Linked DNA regions of Homo sapiens: regions 1 and 3 are each linked to region 2. The links come from fine-mapping of genetic effects on gene expression. A gene starts in region 2. Each other region holds a variant in brackets. All regions are shown on one strand. Distances are between the middles of the regions.

Region 1 (8,185 bases), 90 kb after region 2:
TCAATACTCATCAAACATATTGGCCTAAGGTTTCCTTTTTTTGTTGTTTCTCTGCCAGGTTTTGGTATCAGAATGATGCTGAATGATGCTGGCCTCATAGAATGAGTTAGGGAGAAGTTCTTCCTCCTCAATTTTTTTGAATAGTTTCAGTAGGAGTGGTACCAACTCTTCTTTACATGTCTGGTAGAATTTGGCTGTGAATCCATCGGGTCCTGGGCTTTTTTTGATTGATAGGTTTTTAATTACTGGTTCAATTTTGGAACTCATTCTTTGTCTGTGCGGGGTTTTAATTTCTTCCTGGCTCAATCTTGGGAGGTTTTATATTTCCAGAAATTTATCCATTTCTTCTAGGTTTTCTAGTTTTTGTGCATAGAGGTGTTCATAATAGTCTCTGGGGTTTTTTTTTTTTTTTCTGTGGGGTCGGTGGTAATGTTCCTTTTGTCATTTCTGATTGTGTTTATTTGGATCTTCTCTTTTAAATTAGTCTAGCTAGTGGTCTATTAATCTTATTTATTCTTCAAAGAGCCAACTTATGATTTCATTGATCTTTTGTATGGTTTTTCACATATCAATTTCATTCTGTTTAGCTCTAATTTTGGTTATTTCTTGTCTTCTGCTAGCTTTGGGGTTGATTTGCTCTTGTTTTTCTAGTTCCTCTAGGTGTGATGTTAGATTGTTATTTCTAGATCTTTCTAACTGTTTCATGTGGGTGTTTAGCACTATAAACTTGTAACACTGCTTTAGCTGTGTCCCAGAGATTCTGGTATTTTCTGTCTTTGTTCTCATTAGTTTCAAAGGATTTCTTGAGTTCTGCCTTAATTTCATTGTTTACTCAGAAGTCATCAGGAGCAGGTTGTTTAATTTCCATGTAATTGTATGATTTTTAGTGATCTTCTTAGTATTGATTGCTATTGTTATTGCACTGTGGTCCGAGAGTGTGGTTAATATAATTTTGGGTGTTTTGCATTTGCTTAGAATTGTTTAATGGCTGATTGTGTGGTCGATTTTTAGAGTATGTGCCAGGTGCAAATGAGAAGAACGTATATTCTGCTGTTTTGGGGTGGAGAGCTCTGTAGATGTCTGTTAGGTCCATTTGGTTAAATGTCAAGTTCAGGTCACAACTATCTTTGTTAGTTTTTTGACTCAGTGATCTGTCTAATACTGTTAATGGGGTGTTGAAGTCTCCCACTGTTATTGTGTGGTTATCTGAGTCTCTTTGTAGGTCTCTAAGAACTTGTTTCATGAGCCTGGATGCTCCTGTGTTGATTGCATATATACTTGGGATAGGTAAGTCTTCATGTTGAATTGAACCCTTTACCTTTATGTAATGCCCTTATTTGTCTTTTTAAATCATTGTTGGTTTAAGGTCTGTTTTGGTTTTGTCTGAAATTAGAATAGCAATCTCTGCTTTTTTTGTTTTTCATTTGCTTGCCAGATTTTTCTCCACCCCTTTACATTGAGCCTATGGATGCCATTGCATGTGAGATGGGTCTCCTAAAGACAGCATACAGTTGTCTGGGCACGGGGGCTCACGCCTGTAATCCCAGCACTTTGGGAGGCCAAGGCAGGCAGATCACAAGGTCAGGAGATCGAGACCATCCTGGCTAACATGGTGAAAACGCATCTCTACTAAGAATACAAAAAATTAGCCGGGCATGGTGGCACTTGCCTGTAGTCTCAGCTACTCGGGAGGCTGAGACAGCAGAATTGCTTGAACCCAGGAGCTGAGATCATGCCACTGCACTCCAGCCTGGGTGACAGAGCAAGACTGTGTCTCAAAAAACAAACAAACAAACAAACAAACAAACAAAACCCAGCATACAGTTGGGTCTTATTTATCCAACTTTCCACTGCCTTTTAATTGGGGCATTAAGCCCGTTTACATTCAAGGTTAATATTGATATATGTGGATTTTATCTTGTCATTGTGTTGTTAGCTGGTTATTTTGCAGACTTGATTGTGTAGTTGCTTTATAGTGTCAATGGTCTATGTACTTAAGTGTGTTTTTGTGGTGGCTGCTAACAGTCTTTCATTTCCATGTTTAGCACCACCTTGAAGACCTCTTGGAAGGCAGGTAACGAATTCCCTTAGCATTTGCTTGTCTGAAAATGATCTCATTTCTCCTTCACTTATGAAACTTAGTTTGGCTGGATATGAAATTCTTGGTCTTAGTTTCTTTAAGAATGTTGAATATAGGCCCTCAAGCCCTCAAATATAGAGTTTCTGCTGTTAGCCTGATAGGATTCCCTTTGTAGGTGGCCTGCCCCTTCCCTCTAGCTACCTTTAATATTTTTTGTTTCACGTTGACCTTGGAGAATCTGATGACTAAGTGTCTTGGGGATGGTTGTCTTGTATGTATCTCATAGGGGTTCTCTGCATTTCCTGCATTTGAATGTTGGCCTCTCTAGTGAGGTTGGGGAAGTTTTTGTGGATGATATTTTCGAATATGTTGTCCAAGTTGCTTGTTTTCTATCCCTGTCTTTCAGGGATGCCAGTGAGGCATAGATTTGATCTATTTACATAATCCCATGTTTCTCAGAGGTTTTGTTCTTTTTTATTCTTTTTTCTTTATTTTTGTCTCAGTTAATTTGGAGAACCAGCCCTGTGAGATTCTTTTCTCAGCTTGGTCTATTCTGCTGTTAATACTTGCAATTTGTATTATGAAATTTCAGATCAGTATGATTCTTTCTTAAAATGGCCATTTTGTCTTTCAGCTCTTGTGTCATTTTTTTGTATTCCTTAGATTTCTTGGATTGGGTTTTGAGTTTCTCCTGAATTTCAATGATTTTCATTCCTATCTATATTCTGAATTCTATGTCTGTAATTTCAGCCTGGTTAAGAACCATTGCTGGGGAACTAGTATAATTGTTTGGAGGTAGGAAGACACTCCAACTTTTTGAGTTGCTAGAGTTCTTGCACTGGTTCTTTCTCATCTGTATGGACTGATGTTCCTTTTATCTCTGAAGTTGCTGTCTTTTGGATGGGGTTTTTTTGCTTTGATGCCTGTGGGGGTTTGATTGTGGAATAAGGTGGGTTCAGTTGACCATCTTCACTTCTGGAAGATTTCAGGGGGCCCAGGCTCAGCTCAGAACTCCTGGACTGTGTGCTCTAACTGTGGGGGGCTAGAGTTAGAACACATAGTTTTGTGTGTCCCCAGCTTTGTTCTCTGGCCCTTCGAGGTTAGAAATATGTTGCACTGGAGGGGTGGAGGTGTTCCTGGTCCACTGGCCACAATACTCCAATGGGGTTGCTGGCCAAAGCAATTCACTGGGGTGGTGGCAGTAGGATCTGTGCTGCTCATGAATGCCAGCAGCCA[G/T]GATGGCATGGTGGGGTGCTTGTGCACTGGCTGGGGCAGGGGCGCTGGTGGGAACCCTTTGTTTTCACAGGTGTCACCTTTGTTTTCACAGGTGTTGTATACTGGCAGAATATTTTGGTGTTATGTTTTGGGCTGTGATCTAGTAGGTAGTGTTTAAGAGTATTAGCTGGCAGATAGGCTCTTAACGCTGCAGCACAACTCATTTGTGTTTTGGCATGGTTTGTAGTAGTGTTCTGGGGTGAAAAGGGAAAGTGATGACCCCCTACCCTGGTTGGCTCTTGGGCCTTGGAGGAGCCCCCTTTGACTGGCTCTGTGCCCATGTTTCTTTTGTTGGGTGTTTTGGACCACGGGGCTCTTTTAAGCAGGTGCCATGGTTGGCAGACAGGCCATATGCTTGCCAGGTCAACCCTGCAGCAAGAATTACACTCTGCCCCTCCACTGGCTTGCAAACCTGGGCATCTCACTCTCTCAGTGATCTTAGAGGGAGGGCTTCTCCCTCCTTGGGCATCACTCAGGCCTGCACATCCTGCTCAGCTAGGAGCTGTGGGACTGGATGTGGTCACCTATTCTGCTGTCTGGGTACTTCCTAGGGGAACACGGGGTTGTGCCTGCCCACATAGTTGAGGCAGAAGTGAGACCACTGGGCTGGACACTCTAGCAGGCATGGCCTGTCTGGCTACCAGCAGCAGGGATGGGTGGGAGTCACCTACCCTGCTGTCAAGGTGTTTCCTGGGGCAACAGGAAGCTGTGGCTGCCAGCTGAGTTCAGGCAGAAGTGGGACTGTTGGGCTGAAGGCTAGCACCAAGTCTTGTCTGGCAAGGTGGAGTGAAGCAATCTTACTGCTCCCAGGCAGGACCGTGACCGCTATTGGGGATATGGTACTGGTGTCATTCCGTTCCAGGGTCCAAGGCTTATAGAGGTCCCCATGGACTTGAGAGTTGTCGCCGCAGAAACTCTGGGTGTCTCTCTGCCTCAGTTTAGAAGTGTGGGGGTAGGGCCAGGGGAACCAGGGAATTCTCCCATTACTAGTCTTACACAGGTGCCTGTGTACAATCCTCCAGGGAGCTCTCACTCACTCATCCTTTCCCATATTGAGGAGCTTTTCCTGGCTCTGTGCTGATCCCAGAGGGGCCGCTGCCCAGCTTTGCTCCTCTCTGCCCTCTGTGTCCCCTTGCTGCCTGGATGGATTCTGACATGGTTTCTTAGATGATCAGCTAGTAGGGTCAGTGTTCATCAACCCTGTTGTTTCCTGTTTGTGAGAGCGGCACACACGAGCAGCTTCTAATTCACCATCTTGACCCACCCAACCCCCGACACTACCTTTAATTAAAGCTCAGTTTTAAGTCTTTTTACCCAACTCTTACATTTAAAAATATGTAAAGCTTCAGAAAAATTGCATGAATAGTATGATAACATCCATATGCCACTTGCCTAGATTCATCAATTTTTAAATTATGGCAAAATGTACATAAGATAAAATTTACCATTTAACCATTTTTAAGTGGACAGTTCAGTGGCATTAAGTACATTCACGTTATTGTACAACCACTGCCACCATCCATCTTCAGAACTTTTTAATCTTTCCAAACTGAAATGCTATACCTGTTGAATGGTAACGCTCCATTTCTTCCATTGTTGATGATCACCATTCTATTTTCTGTCTATGTGAATTTGACTACTCAAGGTGCCTTGCATAAGTGGAATAATACAATGTTTGTCCTTCTGTGACAGATTTAATACACTTAGCATAATGCCTTCCAGGTTCATCCTCGTTGGGGCATGTATCAGAATGTATTCCTTTTTTAAAGCTGAATAATATTCCATTGCATGTATATACCACATTTTGTTTATCCGTTCATCCATTAATGACATCTGGGTTGTTTACACATGTTAGCTACTGTAAATAATGCCACCACGAACATTGACATACAACTGTCTGTTCAGGTCCCTGCTTCCAGTTCTTTTGGGTATATGCCTAGGAATGGAATTGCTGCATCATATAGTAATTCAATCTTTACTTTTTTGAAGAGTGGCTACTATTTTCCATACTGGCTGTATCATTTTACATTTCCACAAGCAATGTACAAAGTTTCCAATTTATCCACATCCTTGCCAACACTGATTATTATTTATAATAGCTATCCTAATGGGCACGAACGTTCACCAATTTTAAAACTTTATTACATCAAAGGATTTTTAAAATTCTGCAGTTCCTGCCTTTTATATATCAAAATGGTTCATATGTCCTTTTGCGTACTAGCCATTTTTCCTACAATTCATTCCAGGTTTTTTTTACATTATGATAAGCTTTACTTAGGTATTGGAGGATTGACTGTTTCAAGATGATGTTAATTAGGTGATGCTCTGGTAAGCAATACTCAGTAGACCTTATTGGTAACATTGCTGAAACTACAAGGGTAACATTCATGGGAAGACAAATAGTTTTCATTTATCCTTGTTGATAGTTGCTTCATTGAGTAGTGTGCAGTTTTAAGAGCAGAATTAAATTACATCTTTAAATTTTGTTTCTGATTAACAACAGACTGGTTGTATCATTTTCCTGAAACAGGCTGACATATGACCAAAGTAATCTTCTGAAAAGTAATTTAGAATTAGTTGTATATCTTCTTTTATATATACCTAAATAAATCATTTTACAGAAAATCCTGGATGATAGACTCTATGATTTGTGATTTTGCCTTTTTAATTTAGTTATAAGACTTTGCCAGATACTCAGAAGGCAATTTCAGGATCCCTCATTAAATCCTCAGATCTAGCAATATAAAAGAAGTTGAGTAAAATTGGCTGTATTCTAAAGCCTCACTTCCTTCCTTTGATGATGAGTATAATGGGGTTAGATAAAGGCTCCTATGCTTTAGGATATTGGTGAATAGCAGTCAAACATACTAGTACTTGCCTAAGTCGATTTGTGCTGGGGCATTAGGTGATACAATCATGTCTTTGAATAGAGTTTTTAATGCTTTTATTTATACTTTTTAAGTTTTTGGCTTCATGAAATGACCTTCACTGTGTTCTAGAACTATATTTCTGTTCAAGTGGGTATTTAATCACTATATTGTCCCTAAGCAAATAAAAGAGAATTTTTACCAGGATCTTGCTATAAACATAGAGATATGATCTTATAGTCTTCTTAAGACAGATTATATAATCATTTATGTTCCATTGCCTTACTGTGACTAAAGATTTTAGCAGACAAGCCACTGACATTACATGATTTCTCATAACATTGACATAATTTCTATGTAAGTTGATATCAAGGTCATATGGTTTCTTAATGACAAAAATATTTTAAAGTTTTGTCCTCAGTGATGGGAATGTTAAAGTGTTGTTCCGTCTCTGATAAACCTGGCATCATTACTTCTCTTCATAGGTACTGAGGACTTTAAAAGGAAGCTTACAGATGAAACAACTTTTAATTTTATCTTCTAATAAAAGGAAAAAGGATATTAATAAACAATTTAGAAATAAATGGATCAGAGATGGGGAATATGCCACATTTAAGGAGAGTGCTTAACATTTAATCTCTCTTTTCTTTAATGTTAAACTTATAATACCCAGTTATAAGGAAGTTAGCACTAGTCAAAAATAGAAATTTTAATAATTCAGAAGCTCCTTTGATTTCATTTAATGTCATACTGTTTAAGTTTCTAGAACTAACTCATTTTGTGTTTGTTGTTGTTAGATGTAGTATCTACCCCTTGGACTGCAGAACTTGGAGGTGATCAGCTGAGAACGATGACCTACACTATAGTCCTTAATAGTCCACTTACTGGAAAATGCACTGCTGCCACTGAAAAGCAGGTACGTCTGCTTTGTCAGTGTCCAGAAGAGTCATGTGTGGGGGAAGAGAGAAGATGCCTATTATAGTTCACCAATTTACAAGACAGTTTCAATAAACAAGTGGCAAGAAAAAAGGGAGGAGAAACTGTTACAGGTTAAAAGAGACTTAAAAGGCATATGAATCGTATCAACCCACTCCTAATTCAAACAAACCACTTGTTAAAAGGTATTTATGAGATTTCAGGAATTGTTTATTTTTTATGTATAGTAATGGTATTACAGCTGTGTATTAAAGAAAATAATATTTATTTTAAAAGAGATATATGGAAGAATCTATAAAGAGATATAGTGAAGTATTATGGATGACATTATATTGATGTCTAGGATTTCCTTTAGAAGTCATCTAGCTGGGCAGAGGATGGTGATAGAGGCAGGTAATATGGGACAGAGGACAAAGGAAGCAAGACTGGGGAGGAGTTAGTGTTGCTGAAGCTAGTTGATGAGCTCCTGAGGGTCATTATACTTCATTTCTTCTCTTTCATATATTCAAATTTTTTTTTTTTTTTTGAGACGGAGTCTCACTGTTGCCCAGGCTGGAGTGCAGTGGCATAACCTTGGCTCACTGCAAGCTCTGCCTCCCAGGTTCAAGCGATTCTCCTGTCTCAGCCTCCTGAGTAGGTGGGATTACAGGCGCACGCCACCATGCCTGGCTAATTTTTGTATTTTTAGTAGAGACGGGGTTTCAGCATGTTGGTTGGGCTGGTCTCGAACTCCTGAACTCATGATCCGCCTGCCTCAACCTCCCAAAGAAAATATTTTTTTAAAAAGAATACCAGGCCAGTTATGGTGGCTCATCCCTGGAATATTAGCACTTTGAGAGGCCCAGGTGGGAGGATCACTTGAGACCACGAGTTTGAGATCAGACTGCGCAACACAGTGACACTTTGTCTTTACCAAAAATAAAATTAACCAGGCATGATGGTGTGTGCCTGTGGTCTCACCTACTCAGGAGGCTGAGGCAGGAGGATCGCTTGAGCCCAGGAGTTTGAGATTACAGCGAGCTATGAT
Region 2 (8,185 bases):
TTATTATTTTGAGACAGAGTCTCACCCTGTCACCCAGGCTGGAGTGTAGTGGTGCAATCTTGGCTCACTGCAACTTCCGCCTCCTGGGTTCAAGCGATTTTCCTGCCTCAGCCTCCCAAGTAGCTGGGATTACAGGCGCCTGCCACCACGCCTGGCTAATTTTTGCATTTTAGTAGAGACAGGGTTTCACCATGATGGTCAGGCTGGTCTCGAACTCCTGACCTCAAAGGATCCACCTGCCTTGGTCTCCTGAAGTGCTGGGATTACAGGCATGAGCCACCGCACCCAGCCTCTACACTTCCATTATAAGAGTCCTGTATCCCCACGGTCTTGTCAGCAGAATGCGTTTTCAAATTTCTGTACTTTTTGTCAAACTAGTAAGTGAAAAATAGTATTTCAGTGTGGTTTTAATTTCTATGCTATTCTGAGTGAAACTGAGGATCTTTTATATTTTTAAGAGACATTTGCCCAGGCACGGTGGCTTACACCTGTAATCCCAGCACTTTGGAAGCCCAAGGAGGGTGGATCATGAGGTCAGGAGTTCGAGACGAGCCTGATCAGCATGGTGAAACTCTGTCTCTACTAAAAAAAAAAAAAAAAAAATTAGCTGGGCGTGGTGGTGGGCACCTGTTATCCCAGCTACTCCAGAGGCTGGGACAGGAGAATCGCTTGAACACAGGAGGTGGAGTTTGCAGTGAACTGAGGTCGTGCCATTGCACTCTAGCCTGGTGACAAAAGTGAAACTCCGTCTCAAAAAAAAAAAAAAAAAGACACTGATATTTCCTTTTCCATGAACTTTCTGACATATACTTTAACAATTTTAACTTGACTATGGTTTTTCCATATGTTTTTCTGGGAGCTGTTTACATATTAGTGTGATCTCACTTTAAATACATGACCATTAATCTCCTAATTAAGCATTCCCCTGATTGTGGTAAGCAGGGATTTCTGGGAGCTGTTTACATATTAGTGTGATCTCACTTTAAATACATGACCATTAATCTCAATGAGGCATTTGTGTTGCCCAGCAATGCTACTGTTTTACTGTTTTCCTAAAACATTAGTCAGTTCATTCACCTGTGCTCCTAAGTATTTCATAATTTCTCCTTTCTCTTCAAACTTCTAACAACTTTTCTTCCATATTCACTTTCACCTTATGTTCTATTTCACTGCAAAATATATCAATGCTCTTCAGCCAAAGTCCAGGAGAACCATAGCTGTAGTTAGACAACATTGTGTTTATTGACTCATTGCAATGAGGGTGAAAAAATACCATGGAGAACCATGAGGACATCTCAGTGAAAGGGTGTTAGAAAGGTCTTACTACAGGATTTGGGTTTGTGTTCAGTGATTTTGCGAGGAGGATTCAAGAAGTGGAGCTTTGTCCCAGATTACATATTGTCAATAAGATGTGGTTATTCTGATTGGGTATCTTAATACATCTTATCTAGAAGGTAGGTGGAATAAAGTGAAGCTAAAGCTGTTATTGGGAAAAAGGCAGCAGTCAGTCATATTAGTCAGCATAGGGACATAGTCATTTCTGTGTTTCGAACGATGTTCACATTTTTGTCTGTGTTTAGACATGATTACCCAGTGGCCTTCTTTTTGTCTTACTCTATCATGATCATACAGTGGCCTTGCTTAATATTAGTGTTCTGTGACGTTTTTTATGTTTAACAGAACACAGTTTATGCAAAGTTTTGCAGAATGAGGATGGAAACCTGTCTTTTACTGATTATCTTATTAAGTAATTTGTCCTTTAGTATGTCATATATATTTAAGAAATATGCTCATGGCCAGGTGCAGTGGCTCACGCCTGTAATCTCAGCACTTTGGGAGGTTGTGGCGGGTGGATCACTTGAGGCCAGGAATTTGAGACCAGCCTGGCCAACATGGTGAAAGCCCATCTCTACTAAAAATACAAAAATTAGCCGGGCATGGTGGTGGGCGCCTGTAGTCCCAGCTACTCAGGAGGCTGAGGCAGGAGAATTGCTTAAACCTGGGAGGCAGAGGTTACAGTGAGTCAAGATTGTGCCACTGCACTCCAGTCTGGGGGACAGAACGAGACTCTGTCTCAAAAAAACAAAAACAAAACAAAACAAAAAAGAAATACACTCAGTGTCTGACATTTTGTGGAACTGGATTCAACTCCTTTCCATCTCTTCAACTTTACATTATGATTTTTAAATATATGTAAACAGTAAAAGAATAACTGAATAGTAGTATACCCTCCACTTAGGTCCAATAATTAACGTTTCGCTATTTTGTTTTCTCTGTGTATTCATCTTCGTGGAAGCATTTGGAAGCAAGTTGCAGACATGGTGCTACTTCACTCCTAAATACTTTTTTTTTTTTACATCCCCATGGATAACAGGGAACTCCTAAATATTTTAGTGTGAGTTTTCTAATATTAAAGACACCCTGCAACATAGCCACAAGTTATTATTATTATTATTATTTATTATTATTATTTGAGACGGAGTTTCACTCTTCTTGCCCAGGCTGGAGTGCAATGGCCTGATCTCGGCTCCCTGCAGCCTCCACTTTCCAGGTTCAAGCGATTCTCCTGCCTCAGCCTCCCAAGTAGCTGAGATTACAGGTGCTCACCATCACGCCCGACTAATTTTTGTATTTTTAGTAGAGACAGGGTTTCACCATGTTGGCCAGGTTGGTCTCAAACTCCTGACCTCAGGTGATCCTCCCACCTCAGCCTCCCAAAGTGCTGGGATTACAGGCTTGAGCCACCACGCCCAGCTGCCAAAAATTATTAATTATCCATAAATGAATATCCATAAATGTATACATAAATCATTAATTATCCTGTAACATCAACTCTAATAGCCATTTCATATTCACTATTCCTCAATTGTTCTAGAATGTCTTCCCTCCCTCCCTTCCTTCCTTCTTTCCTTCCTTCCTTCCTTCCCTCTCTCTCTCTTTCTTTCTCTCTCTCTGTCTCTCTTTTCTGGAGATGGGGCCCCCCTGTTTTGCCCAGGCTGGTCTTGAACTCCTGGACACAAGCAACCCTCCCACCTTAGTCTCCCAAAGTGCTGGAATTACATGAGTTAGCCACTGTGCCTGGCTTAGAATGTCTTTTTTATAGCTGTTTGGTTGGGAACTCTGAACCCCAAATATCTGAGACAGGCCTCAGTTAATTTAGAAAATTTATTTTGTGAAGGTTAAGGACACACCTGTGACACAGTCTCAGGAAGTCCCAATGACATGTGTCCAAGGTGGTTGGGGTACAGCTTGCTTTTATATATTTTGGGCAGACCTAATACATCAATCAATACATGTAAGATTTACATTGTTTCAATCTGGAAGGGGAGACAGCTCCAAGGCGAGAAGGAGGAACTTTCAGGTCATTGGTACATAAAAAAATTTTCTGATTTGCAATTGGTTGAAAGCGTTATTATTGACTGGGAGCTGTGGCTTGCACGTGTAATCCCAGCACTTTGGGAGGCCGAAGGGGGCAGACTGCTTGAGTCCAGGAGTTCGAGACCAGTCTGGGCAACATGGCGAAACCCTGTCTCAAAAAACAAACAAACAAACAAACAAACAAACAAACAAAGTAGTTAAGCATGGTGGCACACGCCAGTAGTCCCAGCTACTCGAGAGGCTGAGGTGGGAGGATTGGTTGAGTCCGGGAGGTGGAGGTTGCAGTGAGCAGAGATTGCGCCACCGCACTCCAGCTGGTCTAATAGAGCCAGAACCTGTCTCAAAAGAAAAAGAGAAAAAAGAGTTATTATCAGTAGAAAGGAATGTCTGGGTTAGGATAAGGGGTTGTGGATACCAAGGTTTTATCATGCAGATGCAGCCTCCAAGTAGCAGGTGTCCGAGGCAATAGATGATAAATATTTCTTCTCAGACTTAAGGTCTGTGTTGATGTTAATGAGGCATGTCCAATCCCCTCTTTCATCATGGCCTGAACTAGATTTTCAGGTTAAATTTGGAACGCTCTTGGCCAAGAGGAGGGGTCCATTTAGATGGCTGGGGGTGGGCCTCGGCATTTTATTTTTGGTTTACAGAACCAAGAATCTGCAATACGTACAGCAGTTAATCAGTAACTTCAATCCTTTATTGGAAGGAACAAGAGTTTCCTGGCCGGGGGCGGTGGCTGACGCCTGTAATCCCAGCACTTTGGGAGGCCAAGGCCAGCGGATTGCCTGAGGTGGGGAGTTCGAGACCAGCCTGACCCACATGGTGAAACCTTGTCTCTACTAAAAATACAAAAATTATCCGGGCGTGGTGGCAGGCGCCTGTAACCACAGCTACTCGGGAGGCTGAGGCAGGAGAATCGCTTGAACTGGGAGGCGGAGGTTGCAGTTAGCCGAGACGGGGCCTTGGCACTCCATCCAGCCTGAGGAATGAGAGCGAAACTCCGTCTCAAAAAAAAAAAAAAAAAGTTTCCGAGCAATTCACCTTTTCGCACATTGGGGCAGGGTATGCCATTTCCTGGGAGGCACAGTAGTTTGAGGTTGGGAATAGGGAAGTCTCATTGTGACCCCTAGAAAGACAAGCCTTCAGGCTAACCCGGTAACACCCATCGTCAGGAATCCTTCACGGCCGCCAGAGGGCGCAAGGAGCTGCGGCTGGAAGTACTCGGAGGGCCGGCGGAGGAGGCGCGCGGAGCCTGTAACTCGCAGCGCGCGCTGGAGGTGGGCGCGGGGCGGTGCGGTGCGGTGCGCGCGGGGCGGTGCCGCGGCGGCGGAGGGAGCCGCGATGGAGGGCGCTCCGACTGTCCGTCAGGTAAGCCGCGGGCCTCGCTGGGGCAGGTTCCCATCTGTGGCTTTAGCCTACTTTTTCTCACGGTGATTGCTTGAACCTTCTCAGATTACAGTTAATCCCTCCCTTCCCTTTTCTTCGTGCTCTTTGGAGTAATACGGAAAGTTGTTACCGAGGAAACGGTTTCCTGTGCCTCTGCGAGCCCTTTCCCTACGGGCGGTGGTGGGGACATTTGCTTCCCTGTGGGCGTTGAGGGCTTGAATTTGGTCCCGAAATGTCCTGGTGCGGATGTCTCAGCCCCAGGCCCCCTTGGGTCAGGCCCCATGGTCGTGATTCTGACCCACTGTCAACGTTTTTTCCAGCCTTGCCCCCTTCCTTTCATTCTCAGCCCTGTTGTAAAGGTCCGGATAGTTTAAATCACTGTGCTGTCAGCCAAGTTTTTGATTTCAACTAGTCTAGTTTTATTTGTTTACTACCTTATTTGACAAAACGGAAAGCGTGCTTATTAATATTCAGGATGAAACCCCGCTTTTGTTGGACGGGCGCCTGCGTTTCTGAACACCATCCTCCTTCTACATTGGTTTGTGTGTATGTATTTTACTTTTAGAGAACTGCGGTCAGTGCTATATCTTCTGAAGAGCGTTATAGTTTACAGATTAGTGGAGGTACACAAATAATTGTTGAATGAACAGATGAATGAGTGTTATTTCACTTGATTTGAAAAACATTACTATGAAATAGTCAAGCTGGATATTCATGAACCCAATCAGTCACTGATTCAGTTATGTCCCTGGCACTGGGTGTTCGGGATTAGATGGTGATTAACACAGACATGATCCCTGCTCTCAATAAGCTTATTGTCTAGACTAGAGATAAAATTATTTCCTCTATTGTAGAGTTAAGGAACAGATGTACAGAGATTGACTTTGCTAAGGACCACACAGCTAATAAGTCAGAGAGACAGGAATCTACTGTAGCCACCCCAGAAAGCCAGAATGGACCCCCATCCCAAATTTGATTCAGGTGTAGAAACTGATGATGCCACACACACACCATGAGGTTGGAGTAGAAACTGATGATGCCACACACACACCCTGAGGTTGGAGTGCAGTGGCGCAATCTCGGCTCACTGCAAGCTCTGCCTCCCGGGTTCACGCCATTCTTCTGCCTCAGACTCCCCAGTAGCTGGAACTACAGGCGCCCGCCACCACGCCCGGCTAATTTTTTGTGTTTTTAGTAGAGACGGGGTTTCACCGTGTTAGCCAGGATGGTCTTGAACTCCTGACCTCATGATCCGCCCGCCTCGGCCTCCCAAAGTACTGGGATAACAGGCTTGAGCCACCACCGCGCCCGGCCCTGAAAAAGTCTTTTACTTACATAATTAAGGTCTCCAGGGAGAGCAAGGCAGGCCTCTCAAGCAGCACTAAAATGGCTTAAGAGAGCCTCAGGAAAAAACTGGCTCCAGGTCTTTTTTTCACCCTTGATGTTTGATGACTGACCTGCACCATTTGAATTTGAATTTGAATTTAAGTCAGCCATTGTGGCCCAGTGCAGTGGCTCATGCCTGTAATTCTAGCACTTTGGGAGGCCAAGGCAGAAAGAAGTATCGCTTGAGGACAGGAATTTGAGACCAGCCTGGGCAACAAAGCAAGACCCTGTATCTACCAAAATAAAAAAAAAAAAGAAAGAAAAATTAACTGGGCATGGTTGTGTGGCGCCTGTGGTCCTAGCTATTTGGGAGGCTGAGATAGGAAGATCACTTGAGCACAGGAGGTTGAGACTGCAGTGACCCCTGTTTGTGCCATTGCACTCCAGCCTGGGTGACAGAGACCAAATTATTTTCAGAAATTTAACCAAGGTGGTAGGCCTTACACTATGTGTGGCACAATAGCCCATCCTCCTTTTGTGAGCTCCTTTGTGAGTATGTCAAAAGACTGTCCTCAGGGGAGGATGTCATCAATGGAATGTTATACTTGTGCTCCTGGAGAAAATTTGATGCAGTTAAGATCTTTCCTGTAAAGGCTGTGTATGATGGCAAGACTGCGTACTCTATGGTTAGCCTGGTAAAGAGATGTTATGTCTCTCTGGAGGTGAAGACCAACTATGGCTGAGGAGGTGTTGAAAGAGACACTGAACAGAACATATTAGCCAAATCTATCACAGCAAAATATTTACTAGTTGTGGACTGGATAGTCAGTAATTTCAACAATGTTGAGTATAGGGGCCTTCCTGGGTAAAATGACATCATCGAGGATGCAGTAATGAACCATGAGGTACCATTCATTCTTACCAAATTTAACAGGCCAAATTGGGCTGTTAAATGGAGAAGCAGTAGGGATAATTACTTTCACAAAGTACTTCTTTCTTTCTTTCTTTTTTTTTTTTTTTTGCGAGACAGAGTCTTGCTCTGTCGCCCAGGCTGGAGTGCAGTGGCACAATCTCAGCTCACCGCAACCTCCACCTCCCGGGTTCAAGCAATTCTCCTGCCTCAGCCTCCCAAGTAGCTGGGATTACAGGCACGTACCACCACGCCCAGCTAATTTTTGTATTTTGTTTTAGTTGAGATGGGGTTTTACCATGTTGGTCAGGCTGGTCTTGAACTCCTGACCTCGTGATCCACCTGGCTTTCCCTCCCAAAGTGCTGAGATTACAGCATGGCGTGAGCCACCGTGCCTGGCTGAAGTAGGTCTTACATAACAAGTTTTAGTCCTTGAAGGCCCTGTTTTGTTTTATATTGGGTTGTATAATTTTAACTGGGCATTGAGAGTGGTGGTCCATAGGGTCTCACTGTTTTGTTTATTTTGAGACAGAGTCTTGCTCTGTCACCTGGGCTGAAGCACAATGGTGCAATCACAACTTACTGTGATCTCCAACTCTTGGACTCTGGCAGTCCTCCCACCTCAGCCTCCCAAGTAGCTAGGACTACATGTGTGTACCACTATGCCAGGCTAATCTTTAAATTTTTGTAGAGAGGGGGCCTTGCTGTATTGCCCAGCTTGTTCTCCATACTCTTGGCCTGAAGTGATCCTCCTGCCTCAGTCTCCCAAAATGTTGGGATTATACGTGTGAGCCAACATACCCAGCCTGTTGTCCCACTTCTTTGAAAGCCAATTTGTAAGCTCTAAAGACTTGATTTAAATTTAGTTTATTACTAATTGTGTCAGAGTGTCCATGGCCACAATAGGATATTTCAGGGCAATGTATACCACCATCGTGGAGTATTTAGGCAAAGGTATAGTTCTGATGGTTAAAGTGAGGCATACCTATTTGTTGTCTATTTTATGTTGAATAACTCCTAAGATTGTAGGGGATACCTTGTTTAAATTTAGTGGGAACTCTAGGTATAACTGTAATTTGAGACCCAATATTGATTAAAGCCATGAAGATTTGCCAATTGCCGCATTTTAGCTGATGTTGAAGTTAACTTAGAACCTATGTTGTAGAGGCACAAAAGCCAGTC
Region 3 (8,185 bases), 60 kb after region 2:
GCTCACTGCAACCTCCGCCTCCTAGGTTCAAGCGATTCTCCTGCCTCAGCCTCCTGAGTAGCTGGGATTACAGGTGCTTGCCACCACACCCAGCTAATTTTTGTATTTTTCATAGAGGCGGGGTTTCACCATGTTGGCCAGGCTGGTCTCGAACGCCTGACCTCAGGTGATCTGCCTGCCTTGGCCCCCCAAAGTGCTGGGATTACAGACGTGAGCCACCACGCCCGGCCTGTACTGTTTTTATCTTAGCAAGGTAATAGTGGTCTCTCTTGCCAGCACATGGGGGCTATGGGGAAGCTAGCTCTCCTTGGAAATTTAAGAGTATATTCTGAAAGTGAATATTTCAATCCAGGGTCTAATAGAGCAGAAATCTGTACTTATTTTGAATTTTAAGGCTTAAAGAGACAGAATGTCTTTTCATCTTATTCCCAAATGGCAGAAGAAGATAGCATATGTTAGATTCAGGGGTAAAGTAATGAGGGGAGCTTTTTAAATGTATACAGATATACGCTGTCTAAATTCTGATACATGTTACTCTAGCTTCTATTTTGGGAATCACTAAGTAGAAGGTTGACAGAAGGGTGTCCTATTCCTCAGGTGTGTTGGGGAAAAAGGGTTTAAAACAGTTGATTGAAAGTATTAGTGTATAAAAAGAAAGAATATATCGGTCTGAAGAGGACTTGGTCAGACGTAGGCCAAGAACTTAGGACTTAGGACAGAAAAGTAGAGTTGCAGAGGCAGACTTTGATCAATAGAGAACCATATGGAGATGGGACAGAGATGAATCATCATGCCCCACCAAGGTCACAGTAAATTGTCCCTTAAAGCTGTCTACTTTTGCTCTGATTCCATGCTTGTTGTGCCACTTTCTGATTGCTAATCTGACTTCCAAGGTATTCAGGTGTTCTGGGCGATAGAAGAAAAGATTTCTGATCACCAGAAAGGAATCTTCCCCACCGTGCATTAGTGTATTTCCAACTGAGCTAGTATCAGCTCGTGAGTGTGGCTTATATAAGTTGGCCTCCCTGAGCCAACTCTAGGATAGTGACAGCTCTGAGGCTTTTCTCTAAATAGTGGTCAGTTTACAAAGCCTATGTCAGCCACTGAGACCTTTTGGAGGAGTGTCATCCAGCTTTCTCCTTTAGCCTGCGCAACATTATCAAATCCCCTTGTTCTTTTATTTTGGAGTTACTGGAATTCCAAAAGTTTTCCAGTAGTGCTATCAATCTAATAAATGCAACATTCAGACCTACCTGGAAAAAAAATGAATATGAAATTGGTAACTATTTGTCACGTTTGCTATGTAATAGCATGGCAGTATAGAAGTGTTTGTATTATATAATTCCCTCTTTTTTACCTTCTTGATTGTCAGAACTCCTCTATCTATTTTCCCTTGGTCAGTGAGCTACACCGCCTTCTACCCAGTCACCCAAGCCAGAAACCTAGATGTATCCTTTTTCTTGCCTCTTTGCCAGCCAGCCGTGTCTAGTTGGTCACCAAGGTCATCATCATTTCTAGCTTGAACCATTACCAATGTCTTCTTATCTCTTTTTAACACCTGATCTGTCTTTGAGGTTGATGTCAAATAGTAGTGTTTTAAAATCATGTCTTTTAAAATCATAATTCTGAACTTGTTACTTTTCTATATGAAACCACTGGGTGGCTTTTGATATTTCGACAATGTAAAGTCCATATTCTTTGGCATGGCATACAAGGCTCTTCATGACCTGGCTGCTTCCTCCTTCCCCACTGTATCTCCTCTCCCTGCCTCACTCTCATGACACACACATGCTCAAGTGATGGGGAACTGGTTTGGCAAGCTGCATCATTCCTCTGGATGCTTGCATTTGACATACATGTGCTCATCCTGTGCTCATCTTACTTGACCTTTCGGCAGCGTTAGATACCACTGTATACTCCCTCTATTTTGAAATACTTTCTTCCCTTGCCTTTCATGACATTCTTTCTGGAATCTTCTCTTACCTTTCTGGTATTTCCCTGAATCTTTTTTTGCTGGCCACTCCTCTATTTTCTCTTTGTGTGTTGGGCTTTCTTGGGGTTCAGTTTTAGGTTCTGTTTTTCCCTCTGAAGCCTACTAAATTTAGCTCTGCCCTACATAGCAGTGGTTTGGTATAAGGATTTTTATATTTAGCAAAAATGTGTATAAATATCAGTTGTGGTACAGTTAATGTATATTTTCTCATAGCTATTTGTTCACCATCGTAAATATATTTAGTTACAATTTCAGTCAATGAGAACTACCATAATATGCTAAAAGCACTGCCTTTTAGACAGCGGAAGCTGCCCCCACAGTGGGCTTTCTTCATTTGAATGAGTAGTATTTTCAGCATCACTCTACTCTATCTCATTCTGCCATTGTATAAAATGATGAGATTTTAGCATCCCTCAAAAGGTTGATCCGTGGAGTTCATCAAGTAGCCTTTGATTTGTTTACACACATCACTAAATTAAATGGAATGACTAGGTAGAAATTAGGGCAAATTTTGCTTCTTTATTTAGAAGAAAAATTTTCTTCTGAGAAATAAATAGGAATTAGTAGATGAAACTGTACTGTCTATTATAGTCCAGATCACTGCCAGGGAATTATTCTAAATACACCAAAGTCAGAAATATTTTCAAAGAAAAGAATTATTGAGTAATCAAAATGTTGCCTTAAACCTTTCAGTGATGAGAGATGTGCCGGGTGCTTAGTAGAATTATTCCACCTGAACAGCTGGCTCTTCCTGCTATTTCCTTACGTTACATTTACAGCACTCAGAGATAGAATCTTTGGTTGTTGTAAAGGATTAATGCAAGAGTCTGATAGGAATACTACGTCAGTACTAGAGAAGTAGTATATGAAGAGGTAATCATGACATTCCCAGAATTGCATAGAAATTACTAGCATGGAGAAGAAAAATTAACCTGTAATATAGTTAATTTTAAAGATGAGATTAAAATAATATTGCAGTAGCTGTTTTATATCAATTTAGCATAAGCAAGATGTTTTTACTTTCATTTTGTTTTTTCTAATCTGTGCGTAGAACAGAGAAAATTAGGAACTGTCCCTTTAATAAAACCTGTTTACCTATCTTCTTCTTGTAGGAGTGGCTTAGGAACCTGTAGAGTGAGGTATAACTTCCAATTCTGCATTCTGACCTGCAACCTTGGAAAGAGTGCTGGTACTACAACCAGGAAGTGACAGATAATGTGCTTTAAACTACATTAGAAAAGCTTCTCATAGCAAAACTGAGAGATTGAAGCAGTGATTATTTTTACATAGTTGTCATTAAATATTTGGAGCTCTGCTGTGCATAGAGATGGCAACATACTTAGAATACACAGCTTTCTGGGCCAGAAATTGATCTTCTGACTTTTGAGCCTTATCTGATTACTGCTTGGTTCATCTTTATTTTGTTAAACTACTCTGTAGGCTGAAAGGGAGAGACTCTCCTTGGTTTGCAGGTGGGTGGTCAGCTTGTGTTTAAAATTTAGGTTGTTTTGAAGACTACTAAGGTAGATTATTTTTGCTGCTGATTATTGAAAGAATTATGAATATCAGGCTGGGCATATGTTTGAATGTTTGAATGTTCAACATGGCTGTAAATAACCACATTTTTATGAAAACTGGACAACTTTATAGAAAACGTCATTTTTAACAAATTGGCAAATCTACAAGATGGTGAATTACATGAGTTATATTTTATTTTCCATTAACCTGTTATATATATTAAATTACTAGCTTGAAAAGTATATTGTGATTACCCTGCTATTAACTTCCTGCTAGTATTTAATACAATATTCAAAACATTTATGTAGTCAAATAAAATTACATTTTTGTTGTTAGTATTTTACTAATAAGTTTCATTTCTTTTGCTGTTAGGAAGCTGCCTGAGTATTCATCATTGGTTTATCTTTTTGCTTTAGTCTGCCTTTGTAATCGTTTGATATCTATTATTTAAGAAAAGTTTTTATAAAAGATTAGTCTTACACAAGTATATTGAAATATTGCTTGCTTCTCATTATAAAGTTAACCATCCTAGTAAGACACTAAAATATTTCAAAGATAATTTCTTTGGAAGAATGAGTTAATTAGTAGTGTGAGTTATTATTGTGAAAAAAAGTTCACAACAAATGACTCATTTGGAGTGGAAGTCAGAAAATAAACGTGTATGTTCCTTTAATATCAAGGACAGTGGTTTCTTAATTTTCTCTACCACTAATGGTCCTTTTTATGTTTTTTTCTATGGACACTGTGCTTCCAAAGACTTTGTCTACCAAATAAGGGGTATACATTAAATAATAAATATTAAAACATCACTACTTGTTAGATATATATTATTTCCAGTGAGAATTTATTAGCCTGTGTTATCCATTGTAGGTTAATATAGTTCAGCTCGAAACAGAGGCTTGCCATTTCACTTAACTTGAATAGCTTTATTTTAGATAATTGGATATTTTTGACTTTTTGAAATATTATCTGATAATATCTGATGATAATATCTGAATTTTCATCATCTGCTCTTGTGGAATCCTGGTAATCTGGGCACAGTAGATTGGGAACTAGTGGTCTAAAGTGCAGACATTTTGTTCTTAATATCTTTGAAGGTCCATGAAATGTAATGAAGGTCATCTAGTATAACATAACAAACAAAGATGCCATAGTTACTAGACAGAGAAGAAAAAAGGAGGAAGAAAAAGGAAGTGGTATTT[A/G]TTGTAGGGAACCCTGGGGAGGAATTCAAGGCATCTGTGTTGTGGCCCCATCAAGTCTATATTTATCTCTACTATTTCGCAACTTAAAATTTTTATTTCAGTTAGGCTGATAGACTACTGACTTCAAAACAAATGTTACTTATGTTCATGTATTTATTCTGTATTTTTAGTTGGTTTCCGTCTCTTCAACTTTTCCCATTTCTCCATTTCCCCATATTCTTCCTTTATCTCAGCTGAAAACACTTCTCCAATGTGAAGCTTTATCTGATCACACTAATCCACAGTCCTATTTCCTTCCTTTAGACTTTCATATCATGTTGACTGTACCAGTACTTTAGTGCATGATCATATTATATCTTGTCATATAACTTAAGAACATCCCATGTCTCTTCAACTATATTAAAAGTTGTTTGAGGGCCAGGAGCTTAACTTCTACATTATGTTTTTATGTTTATTCTCCTTAGCATCTAGTGCAGTAACGCACATTTGTTAGGTACTAAATAAATATCTGTTGAATGAATGAGAGAGATTATCTTACTAACAATTGCTTCAAGTGTTATGCTACTTCCTTACACCTTGCTTAAGCAGGTAATTAACTATCTGTAATGTTTTTAGACATCAGACCATTGGTTATCATAATATTGTTATTTAATTTTATTTTTCAACTGGAGGCCATTATCCTAAATCATAATAATACTGTTTTTGTTTTGCTAGGTAATGTGTGAGTTTGTTGTATTTGATGATTTAAAAATTTGTTAATTTCTGCCTACAAAGAAAGAACAAGCTGGACTTTATTAAAGATAAATCAAAGGAAAAATTCTGAAGTCCAGACTCTTGCATTTTATATATTAGGAAAATATAGTTTAAAATTTATTGATATATAAGATTTTTAAAGTGGTTAAAATATTCAGATACATTATGGATTAAGAGGACAGGTTCTAAGCTGACAGGGCTGAACGGTGATTCAGTGGTCATGGTAGACTGGTTAGATTGCAGAACTAAACTGAAGATCAGAGGCTAGGCACCATGTCTCACGCCTATAATATCAGCATTTTGGGAGGCTGAGGAGGGTGGATCACTTGAGGTCAGGAGTTCCAGACCAGCCTGGCCAACATGGTGAAACCCCATCTCTACTAAAAATACAAAAATTAGCTGGGTGTGGTGGTGCACACCTGCAATCCCAGCCACTCGGGAGGCTGAGGTAGGAGAATCGCTTGAACCTGGGAGGTGAAGGTTGCAGTGAGCTGAGATTGCACCACTGCACTCCAGCCTGGGTGGCACAGTGAGACTCCATCTCAAAAACAAGCAAACAAACTGCAGATCAGTAATTACCAGAAAGTATGAACAAATTATTATTATTATTATTATTATTATTTTGAGATGGAGTCTCGCTCTGTCACCCAGGCTGGAGTGCAGTGGCACAATCTTGGCTCACTGCAACCTCCGCCCCCTGGGTTCAATCGATTCTCCTGCCTCAGCCTCCTGAATAGCTGGGACTATAGGTGTGCGCCACCATGCCCAGCCAATTTTTGTATTTTTTTTTTTTAGTGGAGACCAGGTTTCACCATGTTGGCCAGGATGGTCTCGATCTCTTGACCTCGTGATCTGCCTGCCTCAGCCTCCCAAAGTGCTGGGATTACAGGCGTGAGTCACTGTGCCTGGCCTGAACAAATTATTTTACAGAAAGAAAATTTAAAACATTTTTAACCTCCCATTTTCAGTAGTTATTATAATATGTACTTTAAAATCATTTTATCTATTCCTTTTATGAACTCTGCCAGATAGCTTTTATTAACTCATTTTTATAGATATGCAAAATGGAGGTACAGAAAGGTCAAATAACTACCAAAGCCCCATATCTAGTCTTTGCACAACAGGTCATTTTTGACTTCAAAACTCATGTTTTGAATCACTGTGATATTATATTTTATATTTTCCAATGCTCAGTGTAATTTTTCTGTCACTTTAGAGCCTGACTAGACAGGAATTCTGGCAACTGCTCCAGCAGAACTATGGCACTGAGCTAGGTTTAAATGCTGAGGAGATGGAAAACTTGTCACTGTCGATTGAGGATGTGCAGCCAAGGTACAGCAAAATGTTTTGAAATGTCAAAATTTATCAATTATTAATCAAAGCAGAATTATTTTACATTCGACTAATTCTGAATTTCTAGTAATTTATCTTTGGCTGCCATTTGCCCCTTTGTTCTTTGTGGTGGAATGGGGTGAAAGGTGGGGACAGAGAATAGTTTGCTAAATAGGTAAGCACATATGAGATATATAAGGAAATGTTGGCTATGTCACTTAGGGTAGACTTAAAGTCTGGTTTTAGTAAGCCTGTTTATTAAGGATCTGGAGAAGTACCTAGTGAAATCTCTGAGTTTATAGATGACAGTAAAGTAAATTATATGGTAGGTGTTTTGAAGGATACAATAACATGATTTTTCCTCAGGAATTCCCTAACATAGTGCTTAGCATGTGGTTGGCACTCCATAAATATTGAATACATTAATGGAAGGAGCATATAGCCTACCGTGGAATGCAAATAATTGTAATACAAGGTCGATAATGGTAAGAGTCATAACAGAGTAACAGATAATGTGATAAAGAAATTAAGAGTACAGAGAGACTATTTTTGACTGATGAGGATTCATTTAGAAGAGTGGACATTTTTATTAACCTCTACAAGTAAAAGTGCATTATGTCCAGTGGAAATTGAGGCTGTTAGCAATAAAAACAATTAAGGAGAATACATTAAAATTCTATAGCAAACATTATGCTGAGTGAAAAAAGCCAGTCACAAAAGGCCATATATTGTATGATTCCATGTATGTGAAATGGAGTCTAGAACTGGTAAGTTTATAGAGACAGAAAGTAAATGGTAGTTGCCAGGAGCTGATAGGAAGGGAGAATGGGGAGTGACTGCAAGTGACTGCAAAGCATTTCTTTGTTGGGGTGATGACAATGTTCTACAATTAGTTAGTGGTGATGGTTGCCCAACTCTGTAACCCACTAAATTGTACACTTTACATGAAGTGAATTTTGTGGTGTGTGGATTATATCTTAAAAGCTGTTATTTAGAAATTCTATAGCAAATCTTAAAATGGAAATATTTTGAAAGTCTCAAAGTATGTGCAGAAATTTTACTCATCTAGGTAATCTACTTATGCTGATCCAATTTATATCTTTTCAGCTTAGCATCAGTATTTTATAGGCTTTTTTACATGGTTGCACATGTATATTTTATTAGCTTTCTGTAAAGTTAAAAATTTCCATTGTATTGTTCTCCTTGAGAAGTTTAGTAGCCTCTTGCCGGCTCTGGATTTGGATAGAAAAGCAGTTACTCTAATGCAAAGAGCCTTGGATTATGGTAAACAGGATCTGGATCTTAGTTAGGGTCACCAAACAGCCGAGCAACCTCAGGCAAATCTTTTCATTTTTTTGATTCTCAGTTTTCTCGTCTATGAAATGAG

Evidence for each region. PIP is the estimated chance that this variant, and not a neighbour inherited with it, causes the effect.
Region 1: its variant is fine-mapped to the expression of GRAMD1C in atrial appendage (GTEx, PIP above 0.99).
Region 3: its variant is fine-mapped to the expression of GRAMD1C in lung (TOPMed, PIP above 0.99). The same link has a PIP of 0.9 or more in nasal epithelium.

What each region holds. Positions count from the first base shown.
Region 1 is chr3:113,923,695-113,931,879 of GRCh38, forward strand. GRAMD1C (GRAM domain containing 1C) reads left to right here. Exons shown (of 18, transcript NM_017577.5): 11 at 7,020-7,138. Among named protein-coding and RNA genes, the nearest start is that of ZDHHC23, 20 kb to the right of the region's middle. The variant G/T (reference allele first, on the strand shown) is at 3,317.
Region 2 is chr3:113,834,188-113,842,372 of GRCh38, forward strand. GRAMD1C (GRAM domain containing 1C) reads left to right here and starts at 4,601. Exons shown (of 18, transcript NM_017577.5): 1 at 4,601-4,749. The coding sequence starts at 4,723. RefSeq lists a silencer at 4,614-4,813.
Region 3 is chr3:113,894,349-113,902,533 of GRCh38, forward strand. GRAMD1C (GRAM domain containing 1C) reads left to right here. Exons shown (of 18, transcript NM_017577.5): 7 at 6,683-6,798. Among named protein-coding and RNA genes, the nearest start is that of ZDHHC23, 50 kb to the right of the region's middle. The variant A/G (reference allele first, on the strand shown) is at 4,714.